4 separate regions of the Homo sapiens genome follow, and all the other regions are linked to region 1. Evidence: fine-mapped expression QTL. A gene starts in region 1. Each other region holds a variant in brackets. All regions are shown on one strand. Distances are between the middles of the regions. Region 1 holds the start of GPR137B (G protein-coupled receptor 137B). Region 2 holds the start of ERO1B (endoplasmic reticulum oxidoreductase 1 beta). Region 3 has its middle 36 kb from the start of GPR137B. Region 4 overlaps GPR137B (G protein-coupled receptor 137B).

What was found. PIP is the estimated chance that this variant, and not a neighbour inherited with it, causes the effect.
Region 2: its variant is fine-mapped to the expression of GPR137B in whole blood (TOPMed, PIP 0.98).
Region 3: its variant is fine-mapped to the expression of GPR137B in whole blood (TOPMed, PIP above 0.99).
Region 4: its variant is fine-mapped to the expression of GPR137B in blood mononuclear cells (TOPMed, PIP above 0.99).

The regions. Positions count from the first base shown.
Region 1 is chr1:236,138,259-236,145,790 of GRCh38, forward strand. GPR137B (G protein-coupled receptor 137B) reads left to right here and starts at 4,281. Exons shown (of 7, transcript NM_003272.4): 1 at 4,281-4,778. The coding sequence starts at 4,365. RefSeq lists silencers at 4,020-4,199, 4,270-4,539 and an enhancer at 4,505-5,008.
Region 2 is chr1:236,276,568-236,284,099 of GRCh38, forward strand. ERO1B (endoplasmic reticulum oxidoreductase 1 beta) reads right to left here and starts at 5,391. Exons shown (of 16, transcript NM_019891.4): 1 at 5,115-5,391. The coding sequence starts at 5,216. RefSeq lists an enhancer at 4,786-4,985 and silencers at 5,056-5,105, 5,146-5,735. The variant G/C (reference allele first, on the strand shown) is at 4,167.
Region 3 is chr1:236,102,528-236,110,059 of GRCh38, forward strand. No RefSeq gene overlaps it. Among named protein-coding and RNA genes, the nearest start is that of GPR137B, 36 kb to the right of the region's middle. The variant G/A (reference allele first, on the strand shown) is at 3,800.
Region 4 is chr1:236,203,746-236,210,943 of GRCh38, forward strand. It overlaps GPR137B (G protein-coupled receptor 137B), which reads left to right. Exons shown (of 7, transcript NM_003272.4): 6 at 1,381-1,505; 7 at 4,305-5,162. The coding sequence ends at 4,413. Among named protein-coding and RNA genes, the nearest start is that of GPR137B, 65 kb to the left of the region's middle. The variant C/G (reference allele first, on the strand shown) is at 5,147.

The sequences.
Region 1 (7,532 bases):
TGACCATGCAGGCAGGGACTGACTGATCCATTTTGTAACAATCTGGACTTCCCCACCAAGGCTGACCTGGCTTTTCATGAGTATCGCCAGCCAACTCTGAGCCTTTCAAGAGGTTTCAAACTCAGGGGAAGTCCTAGACAGCCACCTGAAAGCAGATTATATAGACCTCTTTAATCACGTAGGATATCAGCAATTTGTCCTTGCTGTAATAGACAATGTTTCTGAACTTGGACTGACTTTCTTTGCCTCCTGTGCCTGCGTTATTGTCCCGGGACTTTCTGAATGCATTGCTCATCATCATGGTATCCTATACAATATTGCTCTGACCAAGGACCTCACTTTATACTAAAAGAAGAAACGTGGTAGGCTAATTTCTGTCCCTCAAGTAGCAGCTGGCCTTATCCAGTGGTGGAATGACCAATTGTAGGCTTAGTTATTGTGCCTGCAGGACAACAATGCACAGAAAGGTAGCATTGGTGTCCTATAATATATAGAATTTCTTCTGAACCCAAAGCTGACATATCGTGCTATTTGTCCTGCAGTCAGGATACATGGCTACAGGAACCAAGAGAATGGCACCTTTCACTAACACTCAGTGACTTACTTGCAAATTTTTTTGTTTCCCGTTCCTTCGCCTCTAGGCTTGGCTAGTTTGAAGGTCTTAGTAACCAAGGAGGAACTCTTCTACCCCAGGAGATTCAAGTGTGGTTTAAGTGAAATAAAAGTTGAGACCCTGGCTATTTCAGACTCCTCATGCCAGTGGGTGAATTGTAAAAAATAGTATGATGGTGTTGGCTGTGATGACAGTAACTATTAAGAGGAAGTAGAGTTGCTGTTATATGATGAGCAATAAAAGGTGAATAGACAGAATTCAATCATGGTAGTGCCTCTTGCTGCTGGCATGTCCAGTGGCAAACATTAACAAGCTTAGATTCCTCAGAAATCAGGGCTACCCCTGACTAGCTGAGATCCCTGATGAAGGGAAAGGGAAATTTTGTAACGTCCATTAAGGAGAGCAATTACAGCTTTATGACCAGTCAGAAAAACAACAACTCTAACTTATATTTTTTTCTTGCTGTGTCATATGTATGTATTTTATAAATTGATGCAAAAGTAATTGTGGTTTTTGTCATTACTTTTAATTGCAAAAAGCCACAATTACTTTGGCGCCAACCTAATAATGAATTCTCCTTTCCTTTACATTTTTTTCTTCTACTATTTTATACAGGACAAACTAGTGATGGATAACTTAATAATTTAGTCCGTAAGATACAGAATGTTGAGATGAGATGGTGACAGAATTGGAGGAATGGCTATCACCCAGAGCTCCTGGGCTTGGAGCTGGACACAGAAAATGATGATCCTTTTGGGGGAAAGAGGGAATGTGTTTTTCTGTTTTCTTCCTTCCTTCCTTCCTTCCTTCCTTCCTTCCTTCCTTCCTTCCTTCCTTTCTCCTTCCTTCCTTTTTTCCCCTCCCTCCCTCCTTCCTTCCCTTCCTTCCCTTTCTTCCCTTCCTTCCTTCCTGATGGAGTCTCACTCTGTGGCCCAGGCTGGAGCTCAGTGGCGTAATCTCAGCTCACTGCAACCTCCGCCTCCTGGGTTCCAGCGATTCTTGTGCCTCAGCCTCCCTAGTAGCTGGGATTACAGGCATGTGCCACCACACCCGGCTAATTTTTGTATTTTTAGTAGAAACAGGGTTTCACTTGGTTGGCCAGGCTGGTCTCGAACTCCTGACTTCAGTTGATCCACCTGCCTTGGCCTCCCAAAGTGCTGGGATTACAGGTGTGAGCACCTGGCTTGGAATGCTTTTCAATTGTACAAGGGTTATTAAGTGGGAGCATCTTTATTGTATTTTCAGAATTGTAAAGATGATAAGAAACATTTGACACTAGGTAGTCAAAGAGGTGAACTGTTGTAGCCATCTGGCATTCTTTTTGTCTGCTTTGAAGTCATGATAAAGATGCTAGTTTTTCCTAAATCCATTCGCCCCTTCATCCATAATTACAGAACCATGGCTTTCAGCTGTGTACAATGCCACGTGGACTAAAACTACGTTTCCCAATCTCTTGTAGCCAGCTTGCTAGGGTAATTAAGTCCTAGCAATGAGCTAAAAGTGGATGCATTATGTGGTCTTTCTGGGAAGGCTCCAGAAACAGGAGAAAACAAGTGCTCTTTAGTCTTCCCCTGTTCCTCCTAACGCTGGCCTGGGATGTGGACTCAATGTCTGGAGAGCCAGTAGCCCTCCTGGATCATGAGGTAGAATCCATGCACACTGGAGGGAGAAATATCAGAGTCTGGACCTCTGTTGACAAACAATATTCCTTCAGTGTAATAAAATGTATACGGATGCTTTTCCAATGTGCCAGGGGAGAGACTGGTAAACAAGCCTAGTTTCTATCATAAGGACACATAAATAAGTGTGTTGCGGGGGAAACTAACAATCAGGCAAGGATATTAGGGAAGCACACAGGTGAAACACCTAGCCTAATCCTGAGAGTTTGGTGGGTGGAGAGTTCTGGAGAGGCTCTCTGCAGGAAGTTACACCCTCATGGATAGCTAGGAAGGACCAGCTGTTGGAGGAAAGGGCAGAATTTTCTTAGTCTAGGGGAGTCAGGAGGTGTTAACACTGCTTAACACCTTGGAAGAGATAAGGCAGGGAGGTAAGCTAGGGTAGGAGTTTAGACTCTAACCCCAGAACTATGAGGAGCAAGGGAAGGGCATTTAAGCACGGGAGTAAAGTGGCCAGGTGTTCTTTAGAGCGATCATTCCATCATTCCACTTGCGCTGTTCAGAACGGGGATTGAGGGGAACGAGATCAGAGGCGTGGAGCCCAATTCCGTATTTCCTCTTGAAATAGCGATAGGGAGAGAGGGAAAGGATAGAAAAACTGGAAAAGGAGCTCCACGCCAAAGGCACACTTGGCCCCAGTGAACCACCTGGAATACGCTGGGAGCGCTGTAACCACTAAGTAATTCTGAGCAAAAGCTAGGGTGGATTCTGGATATGCCAGGCCGTCTTTTGGAAAAAGAACACACAATTAGGCACGAAGTGGAGTAAGAAAAGAAATCACAATTACTGGAGCCTCGGAAATCCGAGTTTCTTCTGTTTACCAGAACCGCTTGCCCAGCAATGTTTCCAGAGGGCGCCCGGCTTTCCCTCTTTTCCCAGAGCACTCCCCAGCTCTCCCAAGACAAGGGTGGCGTGGTGCCCCGGGGCAAAGACTAAGTCGCTGTACAGCCTCGAGGAGCGAGCTGCTCAGCAAAAGCAAAAGAGAAGGGCTCTCGGGTGGCGGGGACAGACCCTCCTTCGGCATGGGTTGGATCGGACAAGGGGGGCCGTGTGCCGTCAGCTGCCCCACTTCTCTCTGAAGCCCAGTGGGCTCCATCCACTGACCCGCGGCCCGCGCGCCTCCCGGCACCGGCTACATCGCTGGGAGGTGAGGCGCTGGGAGCGCGTGAGGCTCTCCGGGAGAAAACAGCCCAGCTTGCATCCCAGAGGAGGCAGCAGCCGCAGGCACCGTCTATTTCCTCACTCAGTATACAAATTTGACCTCAAAAATACGAACCCTGTCTTTGGCATGTCTGCATTTAGAAATAAACATCATTCCAGACGCCGGCCAGTTCATAGCCACAGAGTCGTAAAGTTTTATTTTTAAAGGGGGGGACGGAAAGGACTTGTAAAGTTTTTTTTTTAAATTTGTTTTTAAATAAAGGAATTAACTTCTGCAAAACAAGCAATCAGCAGCAGAATGCGCGAGGCCACGAGTGCGATCCCCCGAGGCGCGGGGCGCGGCTGGGAAGTTTTGGGGGCGCGCGGCGCGGTGCCGGGACCGGGGAGGAGGCGCGCGGTTCTGGGGGCGCGCAGTGCGGGAGCGCGCGGCCCCGGGGATGGGGAAGGGGCCGGGGACGGGTAGCGCGCGGCCCCTGGGATGGGGAGGGGGCGGGAAGGGGGGAAGAGACGCGGGGCTCTGGGGGCCCGCAGTCTGGGAGCGCGCGGCCCCGGGGATGGGGAGGGGGCCGGGAGGAGGCGTGCGGCTCTGGGGGCGCGCACTGCGGGAGCGCGCGGTGGCGAGGATAGGGCGGGCCGGGGTTCGCGGGGCGAAGGCGCGCGGTGCCCGGGGGAGGGCGGGCCGGGGCGCGCGGGCCGGGGCGGGGGCGCGCGGGCCGGGGCGGGGGCGCGCGGGGCCGGTCGGCGCGCGGGGGCGGCGGGCGCGGCGCTGCCAATCGCAGACAAAGGCCGTCCCAGTGAATCATGTGGTGCCGGGGGAGGAAGTGCGGCTTGTTTTCTTTCCTCCAGTCTCGGGGCTGCAGGCTGAGCGCGATGCGCGGAGACCCCCGCGGGGGCGGCGGCGGCCGTGAGCCCCGATGAGGCCCGAGCGTCCCCGGCCGCGCGGCAGCGCCCCCGGCCCGATGGAGACCCCGCCGTGGGACCCAGCCCGCAACGACTCGCTGCCGCCCACGCTGACCCCGGCCGTGCCCCCCTACGTGAAGCTTGGCCTCACCGTCGTCTACACCGTGTTCTACGCGCTGCTCTTCGTGTTCATCTACGTGCAGCTCTGGCTGGTGCTGCGTTACCGCCACAAGCGGCTCAGCTACCAGAGCGTCTTCCTCTTTCTCTGCCTCTTCTGGGCCTCCCTGCGGACCGTCCTCTTCTCCTTCTACTTCAAAGACTTCGTGGCGGCCAATTCGCTCAGCCCCTTCGTCTTCTGGCTGCTCTACTGCTTCCCTGTGTGCCTGCAGTTTTTCACCCTCACGCTGATGAACTTGTACTTCACGCAGGTGAGTTTCAGAGAGGCTCCTGGAGGCGCTCACCTGGCGGGGTGGTCCCCGCGGGGCGCCCGAGGCAGGGGCGATGGCAGCCGCGGGGGCGGGTCCGGCCCTAGGGCTGAGAGTGTAGGGAGAAGGCGCCGGCTCTGGGGTCGTCCGAACCCTGTCCTGTTTGCGGGCATTTGTCATAGGAAACCCCCTGCCATTCCCAAAAGGGGCAAGGAGAAGGCAGGGGAGGGCTGGAGGCCGCCGCTCACTCGCTGCCCCTGGCTCCGCATCGTGCGGTGGATTCGGGGCGCTTCTCCGTGCGCAGCGCGAAGCAGCAGCGCCTGCACACGCCAGTTAGTACGGATGGAAGGTGTGCCCCCAAGGGAGGCCTGAACTCTAGAATTTGCCCTGCCTCCCCAGGCACCTAACTCCCGGCCTGGAAAGGTCTTCTGCACGTTGGCCTCCAGATTTGGGCCTGACACTGCTGTTTTGAGCGTTGGCAGGGTGAGACCATGTTGGTTTTGATGAGATGTTTTGAACCTCCGGCTTAGGAGCTCTACAGAACTGCGGCTTACTAACTCATTCCACCGGATTGCTAAACAGCAGGCTGGGGTAACACCCAGCTCCGAGCTGCTGCCGCTCATCAGAGTTACTGTCTGAGCTCATCTGAGAGGCCCCAAGAAAAGGCCATAAAAGCTGACTGGGGCTCTTTTACAGCCACACAAAAATCACTTTATGGGGCATATTATTAAATAAGCTAATGGGAGAGTATGTGAATTAACTTGGCTGCTGCTTTACTGCTGATGGTTGACTTAATGAAAGTGCAGTAATTGTTGAGCACTTTGCAAATACTTTGTATAGCGTTGCACAAAGGTTTAATAACGCGGTGCCGCCGTCATCATCGTCATCATCATCTCTGATTCCCATTAGCTTTCCAAGCACTAAGATGTCCATTTTCACTAGGACTCTGCCGAAGGGGAAGGCGTCAACGGTGTCACCTGGTGAGGGTAATTTCAGAACTGTCGGATGGGCAGAAACCCTGTGCAAGCAGGCATCTCATTCCTTTTAAGTGTCTTTTTTTTTTTTTTTGAGAAAAAGTCACTTATTTAAAAAAAGAAAGAGGCCGTATGCGGTGGCGCATGCCTGTCATCCCAGCATTGTGGAGGCGGAGGCGGGAGGATCGCTTGTGTCCCTGAGTTTGAGACCGGCCTGGGCAACATGGCGAAACTTCCTCTCTACAAAATGTACAAAAATTAGCTGGGTGTGGTAGTGCCCGCCTGTAGTTCCAGCTACTCAGGAGGCTGAGGTGGGAGGCGGAGCCCGGGAGGCGGAGGTTGCAGTGAGCAGAGATTGAACCACTGCACTCCAGCCTGGGTGACAGAGCTAGATCCTGTCTCAAAAAAACAAACGAACAAACAAACAAAAAAAACAAAGTAGGAAAAGGATTGCTCTGGTACAGTGGAAGCCACTGACTGAAAATATGGAAGAAGTACTTTTGGCTAAAAAATAGCATATGTGATATTTTGTAGATAGTATAATCTTTTAAAAATGGGTCTACACTCAGACTTCTTGTAAGTCCAGCGCATCAGCATATTTTCCGGTCGGAGAGTAATGCGTATTGCCTGTCCAAGTACAACCTTTAAACCTGCAAACCAGTTCAGGCAGTCGGCTGCATTGCACAGACACTTGGGTTTTGTAATTGAAATGAGGTGGTTCTAGCAAGATGCAAAAGACAGGTGAGGTGATGTTACCCTAAGAACTGTGACAATGGTGGTATTGCACGTTGAGCTCTTTATATTTGTCCCCTTTTTGGGGGGCAGTGGGGGAAGAGGAAAATGCAGGGAACTGCCACAGCTCTCTGGTAATCACATGCAAATTCTGAACTTAGAGCCGGATTAGGGGCCGGGCTGCACATTTTCTGCACCATCTGCTGGTTGGTGAGTAAATGCTGAGCAAGGGAAACAGTGACCAGGCAGACAGAGCCACTCCGGCCCAGGGGCCCAAAGTCACGGCCCTGTACTCTTTATATCTCCCAGGTCTGCGGGCACCACAGCAAAGGCTTTTCGCCTGAGGGCACAGGGTGGCTGGCTGGAGAAGGTGGCATGTCTCCATCTCTGAGTGCTGGCATCTCAGAGCCTGGCAGAACAAAGCCATTTCTGGCTTAGTGACAAAACTGTGATACTTCTGGGGAGTTATAAAGCCTTTTGTCGCCAACCCAGCTCTGCCTCCCTTCTCCTCCTCTCCCGCTCACCCCCTCTTTCTCTTACACAAACCATTGGAATTACCTAAAGTGGGGAGCTTTAAGAATGACTGTTGCTTGGGCCCCCATCTCAGACCAAGTAAATGAGATTTTTGGAGAAGGGGCTGACAGCTAACAATTAAGAAGTATGTTTAAGAAAGCATACTTTCGATCTCGGCTCACTGCAGCCTCCGCCTCCCGGGTTCAAATGATTCTCCTACCTCAGCCTCCTAAGTAGCTGGGACTACAGGTGTGTGCCACTATGCCCAGCTAAGTTTTGTATTTTTAGTAGAGACAGTGTTTCACCATGTTGACCAGGATGGTCTTGATCTCTTGACCTTGTGATCTGTCCACCTCGGCCTCCCAAAGTGCTGGGATTACAGGTGTGAGCCACCGCACCCGGCCAAGAAAGCACACTTCTAAGCAATTGGTTATATTTATTTTTACCAGAACTCTCTGAAGAAAGTACCGGTATTGTCCCCATTTTCCAGAGGAGGAAACTGAGGCTGAGAGGTCGTAGATGACTTGCTCAAGGTCAC
Region 2 (7,532 bases), 140 kb after region 1:
GAGGTTTAAGAACAAACCGTTGGCCTTAGCAACAAGGAGGACATCGGCGACCTTGCCAAGAGCAGTTTCAGAGGTGCGGTAGGAGCAAAAGTCTGATTAGAATGGGCTGAAAAATAGAAGAACCAGCAAAGGAAGAATAAATTAAATCTAACTCTTGAATTTTCTAGAGGGAACAGAAAAAATAGGCAAAGGCAGAAGGAATATGTGGATGAAAAGATAACTTTAAAACAGTAGAATTAGCAGCATGTTTTATGATATATAGTCTGGCTTTATCTCTTCACTCAAATCTCATGTCAAATTATAATCCCCAGTGTTGGGGAGGGGCCTGGTGGGAGGTGTTTGAATCATGGGGGCGGACTTCCCCCTTGCTGTTCTCCTGATAGTGAGCTCTCATGAGATCTGGTTGTTTAAAAGTGTGCAGCACTTCCCCGATTGTAAGTTTCCTGAGGCCTCGCCAGCCATGCTTCCTGTACAGCTGTGAGTCAATTAAATCTCTTTTCTTTAAAAATTACCCAGTCTCAGGCAGTTCTTTACAGCAATACAAGAATGGACTAAGCCAGGCACAGTGGCTCACGCCTGTAATCCCAGCACTTTGGGAGGCCAAGGCAGGCAGATCACTTGAGGTCAGGAATTTGAGACCAGCCTGGCCAACATGGCAAAACCCCATCTCTACTAAAAATACAAAAATTAGCTGGGCGTTGTGGCAGGAGCTTGTAATCCCAGCTACTTGGGAGGCTGAGGCATAAGAATTGCTTGAGCCTGGGAGACAGAGGTTGCAGTGAACTGAGATCGAGCCACTGCTCTCCAGCCTGGGTGACAGAGCGAGACTCTACTCCAGGAAAAAAAAAAAAAAAAGAATGGACTAATACATGATGACAGTAAAATTCCATTTGAGAAGGAAAAACTGATGATCCAGGAAAGAAAGAGAAGATTACTGGAGCCATGTCCATGAGCGGCAAACAAGGAATGAGACCTAACATACAAGTGAAGGGGCTGCCTTTGATAAAAGCACACAGTTCATCAATGGTAACCAACAGGAAGTCAAAATATGTGGGTACAGAGACTAGTAAATGGATAGATATGGGTTACTCTGTGGAATTTCTCTTCTGATTGCTCCAATTTTAGTAAGGTATGAACTGAGAGTAAGGATAGATGAAAAGGTGATGGAGAATTAAGGAGAAAGAAAAAAGACATGAAATGGTTGTCTAATTCAATAATCATTTCTTCAGCTGGATATGATCAGCTATTTAATCTATCCATCGAGTTTTAAATTTCAGTTCTAGAACTTCTAATTCATTATTATTAAAATCTTTTTGGCCACTCTTTAAAATCTTTTTTCCCTTCTATACTTCAAGTTTCTTTTTATTTGAACACATTAAACATAGTGATATTAAATTATCTGATAATTTCAGAACCTAAGGTCATTATGTGTTTGTTTCTGTTGTCTAATATCTGATTCATGGTGCCCTGTTTCCTTGGGTGTTTTGTGATATTTTACTGCTAGCTGTTTATTCTCCTTGGCACTTCATCTTCAATAATTTTTCGAGGTTTGAGTTGAAAATAAATTCCTCCAGAGGTGATGGATATTTGCTTTTATTGGAAACCCAGGGCACACAAATTTGGGACTGCTATGAATTTTCCCAGAATAAATATTTGGCTTGCGAACCTGTGTGAGGACTGTCTCATGGTTACAAATTCTCAAAAGTTTCTTCCCTGCTTCTCCCAGCAAGTTTCTTTTATTCCCTTTACTTAGAATGGGTTTCATTTCTCGTTTACCCTTATACTGAGGATGTAATTGTTTGAAGTCCAGGCTCCAAACAGCTACATCCTCAATATAAGGGTAAACGAGAAATGAATTATGGTGGAGGCTCCTATTAGTTTCCTCTCACTGGGCAGACACGGGGTTATTTCTTGCCCACTCCACTCCATGCAACTGCTAAAGCAGCTCAAGATCTTTAGGGTTTAGGAGAAGCCCTCAGAGTAACGGACTGGTATAGCACTATTTAAGTTCTAAGTTTCTGGCTTTTCATATATTGAGGGGCTCTGTGTATTACTCAATTTTATGCCACCTCAGAAATGCATTTAGAAAAACTTACATATATCTAATTGAAATTACTTTTTAAAGGAAGATTGTTATATCACTTGTATGCACTATGCCTTTAGTTTCCAGTGCTTCACCAAAGTATATTTACATTTCATTTATACGATAATGGGGCATGAGATATACAAACACGTATCATTTTGTGTGTTCAAAAATATTTTTCTGCTTTTATTTTGGAAGGGGATAACATTTAAAATATGTATCTCCTTTAATGACTTTGATTTCTTGTGAACAGAGGTAGTTTTCAAAAATTCTAATTCTTCCCTTTATCAGTTTTCTACCAATTTATTATATGGATGAAGTCAAAGAACTGGCTGAATTCCACTTTTTGATTTTCCTATTTTCCATCTCTTTTTCTATACTAGAGAGAACTGAAAATACCAACATACTGTATAGACCAGAAAGGGTTCCACATTAGGGCTCCACTGTAAAGTCACTCATTCAATTAAGACATTTAAGTTCTTTGAACTTCAATTACCTCAATGGTCCCACTTCGGAGAGATTGTACGTGTAACCATGTTATAGATTAAAGTACTATCTAAAAGATGATCAGGCCAGGCACGGTGGCTCACGCCTGTAATCCCAGCACTTTGGGAGGCCAAGGCGGGTGGATTACCTATGGTCAGGAGTTCGAGACCAGCCTGGCCAACATGGTGAAACCTCATCTCTACTAAAAAATACAAAATTAGCCGTGTGTGGTGGCACACACCTATAGTCCCAGTTACTCGGGAGGCTGAGACAGAAGAATCACTTGAACCCAGGAGGTGGAGGCTGCACTGAGCCAAGATGGCGCCACCGCACTCCAGTCTGGGTGACACAGAGCGAGACTCCATCTCAAAAAAAAAAAAAAAACAGCACAGTAGAAAGTACTGCTGGCGGCCTGGGCGCGGTGGCTCACGCCTGTAATCCCAGCACTTTGGGAGGCCGAGGCAGGCGGATCACCTTAGGTCAGGAGTTCAAGACCAGCTCGGCCAACATGGCAAAACCCTGTCTACTGGGAAAAAAAAAAAAAACACACACACAAAAATTAGCCAGGCGCGGTGGCAAGCACCTGTAATCCCAGCTACTTGGGAAGCTGAGGCAGACAGAATTGCTTGAACCTGTGAGGCAGAGGTTGCAGTGAGCCAACACATGCCATTGCATCCAGCCTGGCCAACAGAGTGAGACACTATCTCAAAAAAAAAAAAAAAAAGAAAGTAAGTACTGCTGGCAACAAAAACCAAATATATTCACTTGGAAGACTGTTTGGCACAATGCTACTTCAAATATTCACAAATCTTTAACTGTTGGACTATATTTATATTCATTTGGATATAATGAAATTAAAAGTACAGGGGCAGGCCAGGTACAGTGGCTCACACCTGTAATCCCAGCACCTGGGAAGCCAAAGTAAGAGGCTCGCTGGAGGCCAGGAGTTGAAGATCAGCCTAATAACATAGTCCCCATCTCTACACAAGAATTTTAAAAATACAGGTGAAATTATAAAACATTAATTACACATAATTAGTGGTAAATGAAAAAAATTTAAAATGAAGTTTCTAGACAGATAAGCATAAATTAATATGTGCTATATAAAAAGAGAAAATGGGAACTCTCATTTCAGAAAAATATCGAATTGTAAATTTCACTCAGAAACACTCAACTAGTGACTAGAAAATAATTTTGCCAAAGACAATTTGGAAAATTTACTTTAGTAAGTCTGCCCAGATTACCACTATCTATTCCATCTCAGTGTTTTCCAAGTGAGGTCCAAGAGGTAGTCAAAAGATAACTTTGCTACAGTTATACTGTACTTGCAATGTTTGTTTAAAATGCTGATATCTGGGCCATATTCCAGATCCAATCAATACATGTGGAGGTAGGGCCAGAGAATCTGCATTTTAACATGTTCCCCAATACCAAAAATTTGCCCCTTTTATTTTTATGGTTCAAACACAGACACAAACGGACTATTCAGGCACTCTGGGATTTAGTGCAGGGCACCATAAAACCATGAAATAAAGTGACTCAATTCAGAAAAACATGTTTTCACGGTTACACTCAGAGTCACCTTCAATTTTTCTTG[G/C]ATGAGCACTAATTGCTTCAAATGACATCTCCCCTCATCATCAGGCCACCTGAGACCTTCGTTTTATTTTTTTGGCCCTCAGCAGTGCTGCCTCCTTGCAGCAGGTGCAGACAACAAGCAGCAGCACCTGGCAATCAATTCAAATTCTACTGAATAGAAGCAAACACCTCTCTGAAGGCGAAAGGATCTGGTCAGCTAAGCCTCAGATTTCTAGCACACTGAGAACACTTGTAATCATCGCTTCACATCAACAACCAGCCAGCACCTCACGACTGCCAGAGCCAGAGCCTCCATCCACGAGCCACAACGCCCCACTCAGACCCCCCCAGTCTCGTATTGGGACTTACCTGGCGATGCCACTTGGCAGACACAGCTCAGCTGGGTAAAAATAAAGCAATCTTGAGCAAGGGAAGGTGCTCGAGGAAGAGTAAAAGCCCAGAAAGCTCTAGTCCGACAGTTCGAGTGAAGTCTTGCCCCCTCCCAATCCCCTGCGCCTGGCGGGGCCTCGGGGGTCTGCGGAGTGCCCCCAACTCTCAGTCTCCCTCCCTCACTAACTCCTGAAGGGAAGGACGTCACCGTTTCTCTGGGCGCTCGCTCCCTTCGCAAGACAGCCGAGGTGGTTCATGCCCGTCCCATCTCCCGCCACACTCCCAGCCGCTTAACACATCCGAGAGGAAAAAACGAAAACAGCTCAGGGGGACCGTCACCATCTTCCTCTTTTGACTGCCATTACCCGGAGTGTCGCCGTCCCCCCACCCTGCGGGCGGTTCGCAGATGTTTCCCGCACTGGACGGTCAGGTCTCTGCTCCCCGGGTTTTCTGCTCGCCAGAAATCACCTCTTTTCTGGCCCGGCCCTGCCCGGCCCTCCCCGCGTCACAGCCGCGGCCCGTGTGTAGCGGCCGCGGGTGTTCGGCCGGGGGTTCCCGGCCCGCTATCACTCGGGCTTACCTGCGCCTCGACGACGCTCCGCAGGAAGCTCAGGGTGACCAGCAGCTGCACCGCGGCCGCTACCCCCTGCCCAGCGCCTGCCCGGCGGACCCCTTGGCTCATGCTGACCTCTACCCACACCGCGGCCAGCCGGACCCCTCGGGGCCGGGGAACGACGGGCGGCCCAGGCGACGACCCAAGGGGACGGTTCCCAGCGGCCGAGCGACTCCAGGGTCAGAGGTCTGCACTCCAGTCCGGAGGCAGGCGACTCTTTCCCCAACACCCGGCAGCTGCGAGTGAGGCAGGAAAGGCGAGCGCCCCCACTTCATCCCCCAGGCGGCCCCGCCCCCGGCTCGCTTGGCTCCTCGGCCACGCCCCCAAGCGCGGGGCCTTGTGGGAGTTGTGGTCCTGGGCGGTCGCCTAGGCGCCGCGGCAGGAAGGCGGAGCCGCTGAACGAGAGGACTCGGGAACTACAACTGCGAAGGCCGCCCCGCCTCCCCGAGGCCTCGGGCTCCGCGGCGGCCAATGAGGCGGGACCACGCGGGCCTCCAAAACACCGGGGGGTGCGGGCGGGGGAAGCGGGGCGACCTCTTCTCCGGGAAACCAGGCTGAGGACCTCTCTGCGTCGGTCCCTGCTGTCGCTCCTGGAGTCCTCGCAGACGCCAGGCTCTAGGATTCACCCAGTACGCGGGCGAGTTAGGAACGGACGGTGCGGGATCTTTGACTTTCGGTCTGAAGCGTATTCTTTGTCTCATTCATTTTTCTGTAGCCTCACATCTGCTGTGGGTGCCTATGTAAGCTACCTGTGACTTGTAGAGATGGCTTCGGCTCTTTTTTAATTTCATGCACCCTAGATGTGGATGTCATCTCCTGCCCCGCCCCAGCCCGACTCCTAGGTTGACACGTGCGAGTATAACGCATGCTAAAGAATGAAGACAAACCCAAAGGCTTATGATGAAATATGGGGATGGGGTAAAACAAAAAAAAACTTAGAGTGACATAGATTGGGCGCAGATCCCAACTCTAAAACATTCTAGCTAGTTATTGGGCCTTAATTCCCACCTCATATCTTGTTCTAGGGCTACATAAGATTAGATACAGAAAGAGCTGAGTATAGTGCCTAGCACCTAGGAAGCACTCAATAAATGGTAACTGCTATTAGTTTTATTAATGCCTTTGATTTCTACAAAACGAGTAATACATCTCCCTTGTGTTTATGTAGCGTGTATTAGTTTCTCATTGATGCTGTAAGAAACTATCACACATTTAGTTGCATACAACAAAAGAAATTCATTACCTTATAGTACTGGAGATCAGGTGTCCAAAATGGACCTGTAGGGCTGTGTTCCTTTTGGAGGCTCTCAGGGACAATGTGTTTCCTTACCTTTTCCAGCTTCCAGAGGCCACCTGCATTCCTTACCTCATGACTTCACATCTCCTTCACTCTCTCTGCTTCCCTCGTCACATGCCTTCTCTTGTGACCCTAACTCTTCTGTCTCTCTTGTATAAGGACCCTTGTGATTACATTGGTTACAGACCATCCTATCTCAAAATCCTCAACTTGATCACATCTGCACAGTCCCTTTTGCCATATAGGATAACATATTCACAGGTTCCAGAGATTAGGATGAGGATTTATAAATAGAGGGTCATTAATCAGCCTACCACATAGTGGTTTATACCTTTCAGAACCAGCAGAGCATTAAACCAAATGCAGGGTCCTGGGGTGGCTGACTGCATAGGTCACATGCCCATGAAGCCAGTCCTGCCTGTCCTTTTCCCCTCCAGCAACTCTTTCCCTTCTGCCTCCAAACTGTCCAGATCTTCCCTAGCTTAAAAGCAAAAAGAAATTGGCTGGGTGTGGTGGCTCACACCTGTAATCCCAGCACTTTGGGAGGCTGAGGCGAGCAGATCACCTGAGGTCAGGAATTTGAGACCAGCCTGACCAACGTGGAGAAACCCTGTCTCTACTAAAAATACAAAATTAGCCGGGCAAGGTAGCACATGCCTGTAATCTCAGCTACTTGGGAGGCTGAGACAGGAGAATCGCTTGAACTCAGGAGGCGGAGGTTGCGGTGAGCTGAGATCACGCCATTGCACTCCAGCCTGGGCAACAAGAGCGAAACTCTGTCTCAAAAAAAAAAAAAAAAAAATTGTTGCTTGATTTTTCCAGCTACTTTTCCATGTCTCCTTTTCTCTTCCAAACCTATACTTCCTATCTGCTCACTGCCTTCTTCCCTTCATATAAATGTGCTTTTGATAAGAGAAACTTTTTATCAAGTTTGGTAGACTTTTTAAAAGATTCCTTGTCTGTGCTGTATTTGAGGTTGTCAATAACACATACTTCCTGGAATTTTGTTATGCAAAACTTCTTTTTTTAAATTGTGGGTTATAAATTTTCCTATTATAAAATCTCGGGTTCTTTAAGGACTCTCTCTA
Region 3 (7,532 bases), 36 kb before region 1:
GGTCAACATAGCGAAGCCCCGTCTCTGTTTAAAATGTATATAACTGGTGAACTCGTATCAACCCACCCCCCAGCTCAGTGTTCTCCACAGAGTCCTTGGGGGTGTTTTCTCTCCCCTACATTTCTGCTTTCAGCCCCAGAAACACCTGCCCCGGCAGCCTGGGGTGGGTGGGTGGGACAGCAGCTCCCTGCAGGCTTTGGTGAGGGTGGCCCCACCCGGAACTCCACATGAGGTCAACCTCCCTGGTCTGCAAGTCATCACAGAGAGGCTGAGAACCTGGCTGAGGCACTGGAGGGGCCGTGCGCGGTGACGGGACGCGCTCAGCCTTCTAGGGGCCTCAGTTTCCCCTCTTGGCACTAGGAGCAGCACCTTCCCACCCACTTCACAGGCCGTTGCAAGATGATAGCGGCGGCAGCTTTTGAAAAGCTCTGAATGATATCAGACAACAAATCACAGCACTGAAAAAACAGGTCTAGTGCTTTCGGTGTGAGAAAAGGTTATTTTTCAGTGTGCTGAAATACTGTACGGCAATTAAGTTGCTGAAGATGGATTTGAATGAACTAAAACTTAAACGTGGCAGAGAGAAAGCAGCCTGAGGCATGGCTGACTCTGCTCTTTGGTGTGGAAATGAAGCCCAGCGGCCTGGGGCTTGGCCTTTGTAGATCAGCCTCCGAAGGTGAAGCTGGAATGAGGGAAGGCATCTGCCCCCAACACCAGGTGTCTGAGGCTCTGGCCCCACCCCACAAAAGGGAGACACTCTCCAGCAAAGCTGCCGCTAAGCAGGGGCTCGGCGGTGACTGCAGCTGGTGCATCTTTTCTTGTTTCCGTTTTGCTGTGGTCACTTGATTTTAGAAGTTGCTGGAGGTACCTGTCCACCCCCTCCTCAGACAAGGGGCTGGGTTGGTTTGCAGGTAGAATCACTTTCCCTTTTCTCTGGACTTGATTTTCAGGCCAGTGGACTTGCGCAGCCTTTGTTTTGGCTGTTGTCCCTTCTCTAGTCCTTGCTATGTTGCTGAATATTAGCACAGTATTTGTAAGGGAGGGTGGGTTGGAGTAGAATGAAAATTCAACCATTTTTGCCTGACAGCAGATTTGATAGAAGTTTTAGTAGAGGAGAAGTTAGAATTTAACTCATGATTCATTAAATATATGTTTTCTATATTTCTTCTTATAAGAGATTTTCGACATCAATCATGTATCAAAGAACAGAATATACATACAATTTCCATTTTGTCAGTTTTATCCAATTCATCCACATCATGCAGAAACAGAAGTTTCCAGTAGATGGCGCCAAAGTCTGTCTTTTCTCCGCCTCCCTGCGCGCTCTTCGTTGTTTCAAGATCCGCACATCAACCAACCCTCCAGAAAATGACATTTCTTTATCAGCGCAGACCAGCACGAGGTGCTCTCCACAGCAGAAAATCCCAGTAAGATGTCTGGCAAGAAAAATAGCCCCAAGAGTTGTAGCCCTGGGCAGTAAAACCAGAAGCCAGGAATCCTGGTTTCCAAACAGTTGATGGGTTTTGTGCCAGTTCAGTTTTGAAGCAACGGCCCTGCGGTACTGAGGGTCAGAGCCGTCTCCCATCTGCTCCCTCTCTTCCTCCCACTGGCCCCCATGGAAGCAGCTGCCCAAGCTTCTTGAGAAGGTGAGTGCCGGAACTCCAGGACAGGAAGAAGACTCTAAGCTTGGTCTTAAAAGACCACAAAGCGGCCTGGCGCGGTGGCTCACGCCTGTAATTCCAACACTTTGGGAGGCCGAGGCGGGCTGATCACGAGGTCAGGAGATCGAGATCGTCCTGGCTAACACGGTGAAACCTCGTCTCTACTAAAAATACAAAAAATTAGCCGGGCGTGGTTGCAGGCGCCTGTAGTCCCAGCTACTCGGGAGGCTGAGGCAGGAGAATGGCCTGAACCCGGGAGGTGGAGCTTGCAGTGAGCTTGCTGGATCACTCCAGCCTGGGCGACAGAGCGAGCCTCCATCTCAAAAACAAACAAACAAAAAACACCACAAAGCATGAGATCCAACAGCCTGGGCAACATGGCGAGGCCTTGTCTCTAGAACAAAATTTTAAATTAAAAAAATTAGCCAGACATAGTGGTGTGCTTGAGCCGTAGAGGTCAAAGCTGCAGTGAGCTGTGATTATGCCACTGCATTCCAGCCTGGGCAATAGAGTAAGACCCTGTCTCAACAAACAAACAAACAAAAAGCCAAACAAACAAAACCCCACGAGATCCTAAGGTTCCCATGGCCTTTCTTCTTGCACTGGGCCCATGACTCTGCCTCAGGCTGTGACCGGGACATGAATGGAGAGGAAGGAAAGGGAAATGGTAAAGGGGGCAGGATTGTCTCCAAGTACTTCCCCAGGTCCAGGGGAAGAGGGCTGGCAGGTGAGGAAACCAGAGAATGGGAAACCCAGGCTGAACCCTGATGTTGAGCCCGAACGCTGATGCACTGCCGTCTGTGTGCATAGCACAGTGAAAACTGCAAAGAGATGTGGTTCCTGGCCTCCAGGAATTAACGATCAGGTGGAAAGAAAGTTCATTCCACCCAGGGATGCGTTGGAGCCAGCTAGCACCTTTGAGCTGATTGTGCACGTCTCTACACAATGACACCATGACGTTGTGTCAGTAGTTTCAAATCCGCCATGTGGCAGTATTCACACCAGAGAAATCAGCGAACTCCACAAATCAGGGCTCCCTCCACTCCCCCAGAGCTGAACTTTAAACATTTACCTGCATGCTGGTGACTCTGCCTCACTATAGCACAAACTGCTTAAATAAAGGTGGGGCGGGACATTTGGTCACAGTCGGGAAGCAGTTGAAAGTGTCATGGGTTTGAGTCTAAGGTCAAGCTCTTCCGCTGATTGACTATCTGACCCTGATTATCTCCACCTCAGCCTCTGCCTCTCTTTAATGAGACTGATGCTATCTACCCTAGTTAGTTACAGAGTGGCTGGGAGGCTTAAATGAGATCGGTCTGTGTGGATACTATGTAAATTATAATGGATTTTATCAAGGTAATAGATGCAGCTTTAAAACATTCATAAAATTATGAGAATGAGGCCTACCAAATCCCAGTTTCATAAGGATACATATGATAATGCATATTTGTTTGATTTCCCATTTATTTAATAACACTTATTGACACTACCCATATGCTAGACGCTGCTAGTTGGGCAGTCTTAAGAGAAGATGTAAAAACACTTTGTAGATTACAAAGCTTTTTTTTTTTTTTTTTTTTTTTTTGAGATGGAGTCTCACTCTGTCGCCCAGGCTGGAATGCAGAGGCGTGATCTTGGCTCACTGCAACCTCTGTCTCCAGGGTTCAAGTGATTCTCCTGCCTCAGCCTCCCAAGTAGCTGGGACTACAGGCATGCATCACCACACCCAGCTAATTTTTGTAGTTTTAGTAGAGATGGGGTTTCGCCGTGTTGGCCAGGCTGGTCTCCAACTCCTGACCTCAAATGATCCGCCTGCCTGGGCCTCGCAAAGTGCTGGGATTACAGGTGTGAGCCACTGCACCCGGCTGATTACAAAGTTGTTTTTTTTTTTTGGTTTTTTTTTTTTGAGATGGAGTCTTGCTCTGTCACCCAGGCTGGGTGGAGTGCACTGGCGCAATCTCGGCTCACTGCAAGCTCCGCCTCCTGGGTTCATGCCATTCTCCTGCGTCAGCCTCCCGAGTAGCTAGCTGGGACTACGGGCGCCCACCACCACGCCCGGCTAATTTTTTTTGCATTTTTAGTAGAGACGGGGTTTCACCGTGGTCTCGATCTCCTGACCTCGTGACCCGCCCGCCTCG[G/A]CCTCCCATACAAAGCTTTTATACAAGTCTTTTGTAAAGTAGAAGGCATCATGCAAGGAAAAATGTTGTTTTTCTCAGCTTTCTTCATCTTTTCCAATCTGGACACACATTTTCACTGCAACTAATATTATACCGATACTTTCATTAGACTAAAATACCTGGCAGCGGTCACAGACAATGGTGTGGAAAGGAAACCAAGACAAGAAAACATCCTTGCAATATTTGGCTGAGGCAGGAGAATGGCGTGAACCCGGGGGGCGGAGCCTGCAGTGACCCGAGATGGCGCTACTGCACTCCAGCCTGGGCGACAGAGCGAGACTCCATCTCAAAAAAAAAAAAAAAGGCCATAATAAAATTTATACAAAATTATTTCTATGTATGCCTATATGAATAGGGAAGAATATACATAAAGATATTCACAGTGGCTATCTCTAGGTGGTAAGATTATTTTAATTAGCCTTTCTTGCTCATATGTAATTTTTATTTTCTCTACAAAAATTGGCTACGAAATTTTGGAGATAAAAACTGAGAAGTAAAAGATCTTCATGCAGCTATTTATTTTGTAGAATTACAAATATGGATATGAAAGGAGCCTTACAGGTCATCTGGTTTCATAAGATGGGGAAACTGAGGCTGAGGGAGATGGGAAGGAAATAACTGAGGACTTTGAGTTTTCTCTGAATTTGCATTCTCTTTTTTCTCTCCAAATGTGTGTGCGGAGCTTTTGATAATTAATCTAAACCTGTATACTCTACAATGAGATTCTCATCTTTCATTATCTTTCTGACTTTTTGATGTATCTGCTTCCTCTGGTATGGTCATTTGTCTTTGCCTTGTTTCTAATTTTTTTTTTTTTTTTTAACATTCAACTGACTGCTTGGTTTCTCTTTTCTTTGAAAGACTCTTGATGTAAATAAGCCCTTTATCCCTATCTGGCCTCTTTAATTATATCTTCTCACGTTTGCTTTCTGCTCTCTACCGACTAATTTCTCAGAAATTTGCAAGGGTGAATCACAATGCCTCCAAGCCATGATTCCCAGAATCAGAAAATTGCTTTTTAAATTTGAGGTAGACTGAAACGTTTTTCATCCACGTATAGTATATGATCGAATACACCAGCCTTTGCTTTCTGGACCTCAGCGTTTACATCTGCCAGGTGGATGTTTTCCCAGCTTGCATGATGACTGCTTCTTGTTGAAAGCATCTTGGAAAATCTGAAGCCCTTTCCACCTCAACAGCACAGGCTGGGCTGGTGTGCTGGGCTCATCCCTGTAATTCCAGCTGTTTGGGGGACAAAGGCAGGAGGATTACTTGAGTCCAGGAGTTCAAGACCAGACTGGGCAACACAGTGAGACCCTATCTGTGTTAAAAATAAATTAGTCGGGCATGGTGGTACATGGCTGTAATTTCAGCTACTTATGAGGCGGAAAGATTGCTTGAGCCCAGAAGTTCGAAGCTGCAGTGAGCTATGATCATGGCACTGCACTCCAGCCTGGGCAACAGAGTGAGATCCTGTCTCAAAGCAAACAAAAACAGCATGAGGCTGGGTACAGTGGCTCATGCCTGTAATCCCAGCACTTTGGGAAGCCGAGGGGGGGCAGATCACTTGAGGCCAGGAGTTCGAGACCAACCTGGCCAACATGGTAAAACCCTATTTCTACTAAAAAATACAAAAATTAGCCATGTGTGGTGGCACATGCCTATAATCCCAGCTACTCGGGAGGCTGAGGCATGAGAATCACTTGAGCCTGGGAGGCGGAGGTTGCAGTGAGCCGAGATCATGCCACTGCACTTCAGCCTGGGCAACAGAGTGAGACTCTGTCTCAAAAACAAAAAACAAAACAAAACCAAAACAGCACCAGATACTTGACTGCTAGATTGCACATGAGCAAATGGATTTGGGGCTAGAGATTGCGAAAGAAGCCTAAGCCACCTTCCAAGATGTGAAGTGTTGGGCTGCACACAGGGAAAGTCCAGAGAGGCAGGGTGAAACATCAGAACAAGTGACTTTGACTCCTGTTTTTGTTGAAGCCTCTCTGTGACACACAGTTATCCAGCTTGGAACATCTCTGGGTATAGTTTGGCTCCTTATCTGTGGCCTCTTCGAAAAGTGTCAATCATGAGGGTTGAAACACCCGCCTACATACACACACACTTAGTGAATGAATTGACACAAGCCTCCAGATTCTTTTTTGAGAGTAGAATAGCACTCACTGTCCAATAGAAATATGATGCAGGCCCCAAAGCTGAGCCATATATGCAATTTAAAGTTTTTAGCAGCTTCTTTTTTTCTTTTTTTTTGAGACGGAGTTTTGCTCTGTCGCCCAAGCTGGAGTGCAGCAGCACGATCTCAGCCGATCTCAGCTCACTGCAATCTCCGCCTCTTGCACCCAAGCGATTCTCCTGCCTGAGCCTCCCAAGTAGCTGGAATGACAAGTGTGCACCACCATGCCCTGCTAATTTTTGTATTTTTAGTAGAGACAGAGTGTTGCCATGTTGGCCAGGCAGGTCTCGAACTCCTGACCTCAGGTAATCACCCCGCCTCGGCTCCCAAAGTGCTGGGATTACAGGCATGAACCACTGCATCTGGCCATTAGCAGCCTCATTTAAAAAGGTAAAAAGAAATATGACAATAATTATAATAACATAATCAATATTTTAAATGATTGTTGAGGGCTGGGCACGGTGGCTCACGCCTGTAATCCCAACACTTTGGGAGGCCGAGGCGGGTGGATCACCTGAGGTCAGGAGTTCAAGACCAGCCCGACCAACATGGAGAAACCCCATCTCCCCTAAAAATGCAAAATTAGCTGGTCGTGGTGGTGCATGCCTGTAATCCCAGCTGCTCAGGAGGCTGAGGCAGGAGAATCGCTTGAACCTGGGAGACAGAGGTTGTGGTGAGCCGGGATTGCGCCATTGCACTCCAGCCTGGGCAACAAGAGTGAAAGTCCATTTCAGAAAAAAAAAAAAATTGTTGGAGTATTTTACATTCTTTTGCACCTACTAAGTCTTCAAAACCCAGTATGCCTTTTACACTGAGGGCGCGTCTCCATTCCAACTAGCCACAGCTGAAGTGGTCAGCAGCCACATGGGGCTGGCGGCCTGCAGGCCGGACAGCACCAGTCCAGGTGTATCCAGCGAGTTGCTGAGGATGGCAGGATGGAAAGGAGGAGTGTGAAATCGTGCCTGGAATGTCCAAGCGGATTTAATCTTATTGGTTAAAGATGTCCACTAGGTGGCGATATATGCAAGGAATGAAAATTTACTATGTGGCTGACATTGTTAATATATGCAATTATTTGTAGATATAATTCAGTATTTCCATCATCCCTGCAAGATGAGTAACAGGATGTTCACTTTGCGGATGAGGAAAATGAACCTTAAGCAACCTAGGCGTCTGGTGAAAGGGTTTCCAGCCAGCAACCGGAGGAGGCAGGAATCATGCCAGGTGTGTCTGGTGCCGGAGCCCAGAGGCTTCCCAGATCCGCACACTTCATGCTCACTCATCTGCCAGCCACACAGAGGTCCTGGATGTCTGGTGGGCGATGAGCAAGCGACAGAGAGTCCGTGTGATGAGGTTGCTCAGGCTGATGTGACAACAGTGAGAAGAGGCGTCTCATCTCATCCCTAACCAGACGGGGTTAGGGATGGCGTCTTGGAGCAGCCAACCGGAGAGATTGACATCGCTGATAAAGAGGTAGATTCACACGACCTCATCTTTGTCAGTGCACAA
Region 4 (7,198 bases), 65 kb after region 1:
TCTAGGTATTTGTGGCTATTATAAGTGGGATTACTTTTTGTTTCTTTTTCAGATTGTTCACTCTTGGTATATAGAAATGCTACTGATTTTTTGTGCAACTTTACTGAATTTATTAGTTCTCATACTTTTTGTGGAGTCATTAATTTGACTTTTTCTATTCCAATTTGGATGCCCTTTCTCTTGTCTGATTGCTCTAGCTAGGACTTCCAGTACTATGTTTAATAACAGTGGTGACTGTGTGTTCCACATCTTAGAGGAAAGGCTTGTAGTTTTCCCCTATTCAGTATGATACTAGCTATGGGTCTGTCATATATGGCTTGTATTATGTTGAGGTATGTTTCTTCTTTCCCCGGTTTGAGGGTTTTTATCATGAAGGAACACTGAATTTTATCAAGTGCTTTTTTAGCATCAATTGAGATGATCATATGGTTTTTATCTTTCATTCTGTTAACATGATGTGTCACATTTATTTGTGCTATGTTGAGCCATCCTTGTATCACATGGATAAATCCCACTTAGTCATGATGAATAATCTTTCCAATGTATTGTTGAATTTGGTTTACTAGTATTTTGTTGAAGATTTTTGCATCAATATTTATCAGAGATATTGGCCTACAGTTTTATGTGTCTTTGGTTTTAGTATCAGGGTAATACTGGCCTCCTCCATGAGTGTAGAAGTACTCCCTCTTCCTCTATTTTTTTTGGATTAGTTTGAGTATGACTGACATTAGTTCTTCTTTAAATGTTTGGTAGAATTCTGCAGTGAAGCCATTGGGTCCCAGGCTTTTCTTTACTGGGAGACTTTTTATTATGGCTTTGATCTCTTGCCTTTTTTCTCCTTGTTACTAACAGTGAAAGTCTTTAGAAAACCTTAAGAGAGCTCTGAAAAGAACCCTTGTTTTAGGGACAGAAGAACTGAAGAAAAGCTGGGAGAAAACATTGCTTTCTCAGTGGATTAGGGAGCAGAGAAATTCTAGTTAGGTAGAATAAAAGACTTGTTATTGGTCTGTTCGGGTTTTAGTCTTTCCGGTTTAGTCTTAGTAGGCTGTATGTGTCTTGGAATTTGCCCATTTCTTCTAGATTTTACAGTTTATTGGCATATAGTTACTCATCATCTAGCTTTTCAATAAGGGATTAAAACAATGATGACTCACTGTTGCAAGCAAGACTCTGATAGAAGACTTTGCCCATACTGATAAAAGGCAAGGCGAATCCCTCTCAAACATAAGAGTAACTGAAATGAATATTCCAGCTGAACAGATATAGCCTACATTCAAATGAATAGAACATCTTTAGTCTCCTACAAGAAAGAGATCTTATTTTTGTCTGGTGCAAGGCATGATGTCTGTAAGTATGCTGAATGATTACCTGTCTTTCTAGACCAACCCTGGAATGGTCCCCAGCCATGGATTCAGTCCCAGATCTTATTTCTTTGACAACCCTCGAAGATATGACAGTGATGATGACCTTGCCTGGAACATTGCCCCTCAGGGACTTCAGGGAGGGTAAGACCCTACTTCATGTTAGACAAGCCTCATCAGGAGGGAAGGGTTACACCAGTTAAATAGATTCAAGCTAAAAGAAAATTCCTACGTTAAAACTGTGCAGCCTTAGGTGGTATAAGACTGGATTCTCAGTAGATCATTTTACTTATGTGAAACATTCAGGAATGAGAAAGGACATCCGGTTTTTTTAAAGCCCCATAGCATTATTGTATACAGTAGTGTTTCCTAAACAATATTCCATGAAACACTATTTTCTTAATAGTTATGCTGTGCAAAAGGAAATGATAATCAACTTTTTTATTTCTTGGAGATAGGGTCTCACTCTGTTGCCCGGCTGGAGTGCAGAGTGGTGCAATCTTGGCTCACTGCAACCTCCCGCTCCCAGGTTCAAGTAATTCTTGTGCCTCAGGCTCCTGAGTAGCTGGGATTACCGGTGTGCGCCACCGCACCCAGCAAATTTTTTTATTTTTAGTAGAGACGGGGTTTTGCCACGTTGGCCAGGCTGGATTGAACTCCTGGCCTCAAGTGATCTGCCCACCTTGGCCTCCCAAAGTGCTGGGATTACAGGCGTGAGCCACTGCACCCGGCCAGAAAAAAAACTTTTTAGAAAATGCCGAGCGAGCCTGTAATATGCTAATGTGTGCTCTGAATCTCCAAGAGGGAAATACAGCACTTGTCTATGGAATCACTCAATGGAACATGATATCTTTAATCACATGTTCTAAAGCTAGAGAGTAAATGCAGTAGTATTTATTTATTAGAATAAATTATACATTATAAAGGACCAAGTTTTCAAATTTGAATGATGTCAGTTCTTAATTTAAAATTTCATTTACATGAAGGGTATTTATTTGGTCTCAATTTTCATGAATACTTATTTAATAAATACTTCTATAGCATCTACTCTGTATCAGACACTGTTCTAAGAGATTCACAAATATCAACTCATTTAGTCTTAACAGTCCTGAGAGGTCAGTACTATTATTAGCCTCATAATACAGATGAAACTGAGGTATCTAGAGGGTAGGTAACTTGTCCAAGGTCACACAGCTAGCAAGTGATCAGGCTACAATTCTAACTCAGGCAGTTTTGTTCAAATTTGTTTTCTGAATCACCATACTATGTAAACAGTTTGTATATAAGTACCCTGTCTCTTAGTCTCACCTACGCTTATGTTATACTTTCACGTGAGTTTTAATAGCAGGAGTCTCCTTCCTTGAATCTACATGCGGATCTGGCCCAGAAAATGTGGAAAGGGCAGTTAAATACTGAGAGTTCAAAGCAGCATACATAGAGGGTGTAAGACAATACATGAACTACCAGTCCGCTGCCATCGCCTAATCTTCAGTGAATTGGGAAGGCAAATAAAAAGAGGGAAGCACCTGAAATTGCAACCATAGCAGAGATCCACCCCAGGATTCCAAGTTTTGCTTACCTCAGCATGGGCATGGTCTGCAAACAGGAAGGGTAGTTGCTATTGGGATTCCCTTCCCTTTTCCTCAGCCTGCTGTGCTCAGCCATACTCCACTACCCGATGACTATCATGTTTCCCCTTTCAGCCTGTGGCTCTGAGACGGTGAGGCCAGCAGGGGTGAGAGGAGCCAAAAGGGCTGACATAGTGCCTGCCAAGCCTGTCTTCTCTCTGCTTGTCCTCTCAGGACCCCCATCCTGTTCCTGGGAAAGGGGAGCTTCTTAGAAAGTGAAAGGTTATCTTATGTAATCTTTTGTAAGATTAAAGACTTAGCATTAACAACTTTACAACTTTTTTCCCTCTGGGATGAAATGATAAAAAATATATGCTTGCCTTTTTACTCCTTGTTAGTAACAGTGAAAGTCTTTAGAAAACTTTTTAAGAGAGCTCTGAAAAGAGTCCTTGTTTTAGGGACAGAAGTACTGAAGAAAAGCTGGGAGAATACATGCTTTCTCAGTGATCGGGGAGCAGAGAAATCCTGGTCAGATAGGATAAAAGATTGTCGCTGAGAAAAAAGAAGAAAGCTGCCCAATGCGCTGAGCCAGCAGATGTAAAGAACGTAAGCTGGAAGCAAGCCAACAAACAAGAAGGACTTCTTGAAGTCAAAAGCTGTCCTTTGGGTCACTCAGATTCTGAGCTCCACCTCTTCCTTAAAACTGTTCTTTTCCAGTTACCCCACTGCATCTCCTATTAGTTGCTTTCCCCTTTAAACCCATATTCTGCTAGAGCTGTCCCACCCTCTCACCTGCCAGAAATGACTTAGAGCTGAGGGAGTCCTCACTACCGATATGGTGAAGACAAGACCCCCTTTCTACTACATAGAGGAACATAATTATAATGAAAACGACTTACGTGTATTGAGAATTAACTATATATTAGACACTGTTCTAAGCACTTTACAGATGTTAACTCAGTCCCCACAATAGGCCCACGACGTAGTTACTAATATTACTCCCATTCTAAGATGAGGAAATTGAGGCATAGAAGTTACTTGTCCAAAGACACCACCACAGGTTGTGAGCTGTACTCCATGTTAGGATTCAGATGCAGTTTGTTGCTGAAAACATTTCCTATGCATAGTGACTGGCTGGGTTCTCTAGTCATGCTGTATACTCTGTGCTCTAAAGAGTTCAGTAGAGTTGTCGGTGGGCATTTCAGCCCTGTGTGTAGCATGGTTTTGTGGGAAAATGGACTTTAAGAGCCATTTAAAAGAACTTTAGAGTTATCTATAGTTTACACAAAAATCTCAGCTCTGTCTACCTAAACTAGACTATGTCATACATACTATATAATGTTTCAAGTCACTGAAATATTTTTTTCTTTTTAAGTTTTGCTCCAGATTACTATGATTGGGGACAACAAACTAACAGCTTCCTGGCACAAGCAGGAACTTTGCAAGACTCAACTTTGGATCCTGACAAACCAAGCCTTGGGTAGCATCAGTTAACAGTTTTATGGACGATTCCTCAGATGAAAAGCTTCAGAAAAGCATAGTGACAGCTGAATTTTTAGGGCACTTTTCCTTAAGAAATAGAACTTGATTTTTATTTGTTACAGGTTTCCAATGGCCCCATAGGAATAAGCAATAATGTAGACTGATAAACCCTTATTTTAGTACTAAAGAGGGAGCCTTGCTATTTCAGTGGGTATAATTTAAACTTTTTAAAGAAAATCTGTACTTTTATAAAGATGTATTTTGTATAACTTAAATAATAATGCTAAAGTATACTAGGGTTTTTTTTTCTTGAGAATGTTACTGCAATCATGTTGTAGTTTGCACAGACTTTTATGCATAATTCACTTTAAAAATATAGAATATATGGTCTAATAGTTTTTTAAAGCTTTTGGACTAAAGTATTCCACAAATCTTACCTCTTTAGGTCACTGATGGTCACTCCGATTCTGAGTGCCACATTGGTAGACTCCTAAAATACAGTTGACAACTTAGCCAATTGCAACTCCAGTGTTGATAATTAAAATGAAATGGTAAAGCAGCAGACTGTAAGGTCTTTAGAGATTTTTTTTTTAAGGTTCAGGCCGTAGGTTCCTCAAGGAATCTCTTAAGTTTTGCCCAAAGACTGGTACTTCCTTTCAGTAGGGCGCTAATGTATACACATTAATGATAAGTTGATAACATTAAAAATGTAGCTGACTTATCCTATTAAACCTC[C/G]TCTGCTATGTTCACAGATTCTGCATAGTTTTTTTTCAGCCTAATGAAATCTAATATGCATTACCTCAGGGCCACATCAAGAATACACCCCTTTCCGAACTCACTGAATGTTCATTACATTCAAGGAGAAAATAAGAGGGTCCATAAAGGGCATTAATAACAAATACCCCAAGCCGTTGAGCTAAGACTATGTGGAATCCTAATAGTTTTTTCCGTAATCTCCAACTATATTTAAAATAATGCCCTTCTAAATAGCTCTGTAAAGAGCCTATTGGAAGCTGCACATTTAAAAATGGCAATAGCACTGCAATATGCTGTAGCATGATGCCTGTCAGCCATGTTCCAGACAATTCCTTGTAAGTCATCTTTCATTTAAGTAAAAAACAGGTTATGAAGTACTGCCTCCCAGACCGGAAGTGCCATTCTAAAAACTCCACTATATATATCCTGGAGCCATAAAACTGCCTATTGGGAGGCTAAATGCTCTGCTTTTCTATAAAACAGAGATAAGGTTCTAGAGGAAGTACTGTTACCAGAAACAAGGCACGTTTCTTCTCTGCCTAGGAATGCTCATCTGGGGACAGAGGGAAGGTTCAATGAAAAGGAACTTATATTAACAAGTCCTACTACATGATGCAACCCATTTCAAATGACTCCTCTCATTTTGATCTTCAGGAATAACTGATCTCTGGGCATTGATTTCACAGATGAAGTCTACTATTGTTTTGGTAGTATTTAAAATTGGGATCTCAAGTTTCAAATTGATCATCATTGGGCTTTTCATGTGTATAGAACACCTTCACTCTGCATAATCCTACATAACAACATTCTTGTCTTCTAGTACATGAAAAAATTGGGGTAACATAGCATTTAAAGTAGTTATCAGGGAAAAGTCTATACTGAAGTGAACCCTACACTGTTATTCAAGTTGCCTTAACACATTATAAGCTATTATTCTAAATAGCTTTAACAGATTATTGTGGTCACACTGTATTACTAATAGTTAATTTAAAGGCAGACTCAGCATGTTTTAAACTCCTTTAAGTTACATCTTCAGAAAGTCCTGAAGTCCTTCAGTATTAGGTCAGCTAAGGGAAGATATATTTTTAAAAATAGTGATAAGACTATCACTAATATCATACTCATCCTGTAATATGTAAACACAGTTCTGTTGTTACTGGCAGAAAAATTGGAATACCCAGCATTAAGTGAGAGAAGTCAGCCTACTTTTATGATGAAGCTACTGGGATTTATTTGAACTATTATTTTTGTTAGATAGTATAAAAATGTTCTAAGTGCCTATTTTTCTCATTCCCCTTTTAAAAATGTAATGCTAAAATTTCTAGAAGTGTTGTAAACACGGAATACAAAAAAACTATGATTGATTACTCAAACTCTCCTTCCTTCTTAGTAAGGAAAATTAAAATTCCCTTTGGCTTTCTAATTTACTTGTTCTACTAGGTACACTAACAAAACTACTTCTGGCTGGGCGCGGTGGCTCACGCCTGTATCCCAGCACTTTGGGAGGCCGAGGCGGGAGGATCACAAGGTCAGGAGATCTAGACCATCCTGGCTAACACGGTGAAAGCCCGTCTATACTAAAAATACAAAAAATTAGCCGGGCGTGGTGGCGGGTGCCTGTAGTCCCAGCTACTTGGAAGGCTGAGGCAGAAGAATGGTGTGAACCCAGGAGGCGGAGCTTGCAGTGAGCGGACATTGCGCCACTGCACTCCAGCCTGGGCAACAGAGCAAGACTCGGTCTCAAAACAAAACAAAACAAAACAAAAAAACTACTTATGTGGAATATTAAATGCTAAGAGGAAAAGGAATGGTGATTACTGGTTGCAAAATACCCAAATGTCCTCTTGTTTTAAAGCAACACGATGAAATTAAAGCCCTGATGATTAGAAAGTTGAAGTATATGGGGAAGAGGGAATCACTGAAAATTTTGTGCCATCATTTAGCTAAGTCTGATGGAACACTGAAAAGTTTCATGTGAACGTTTCTGGGTAACTGTTGGAAATAGTTTCTCTGACTATTGGAATAGGTGTC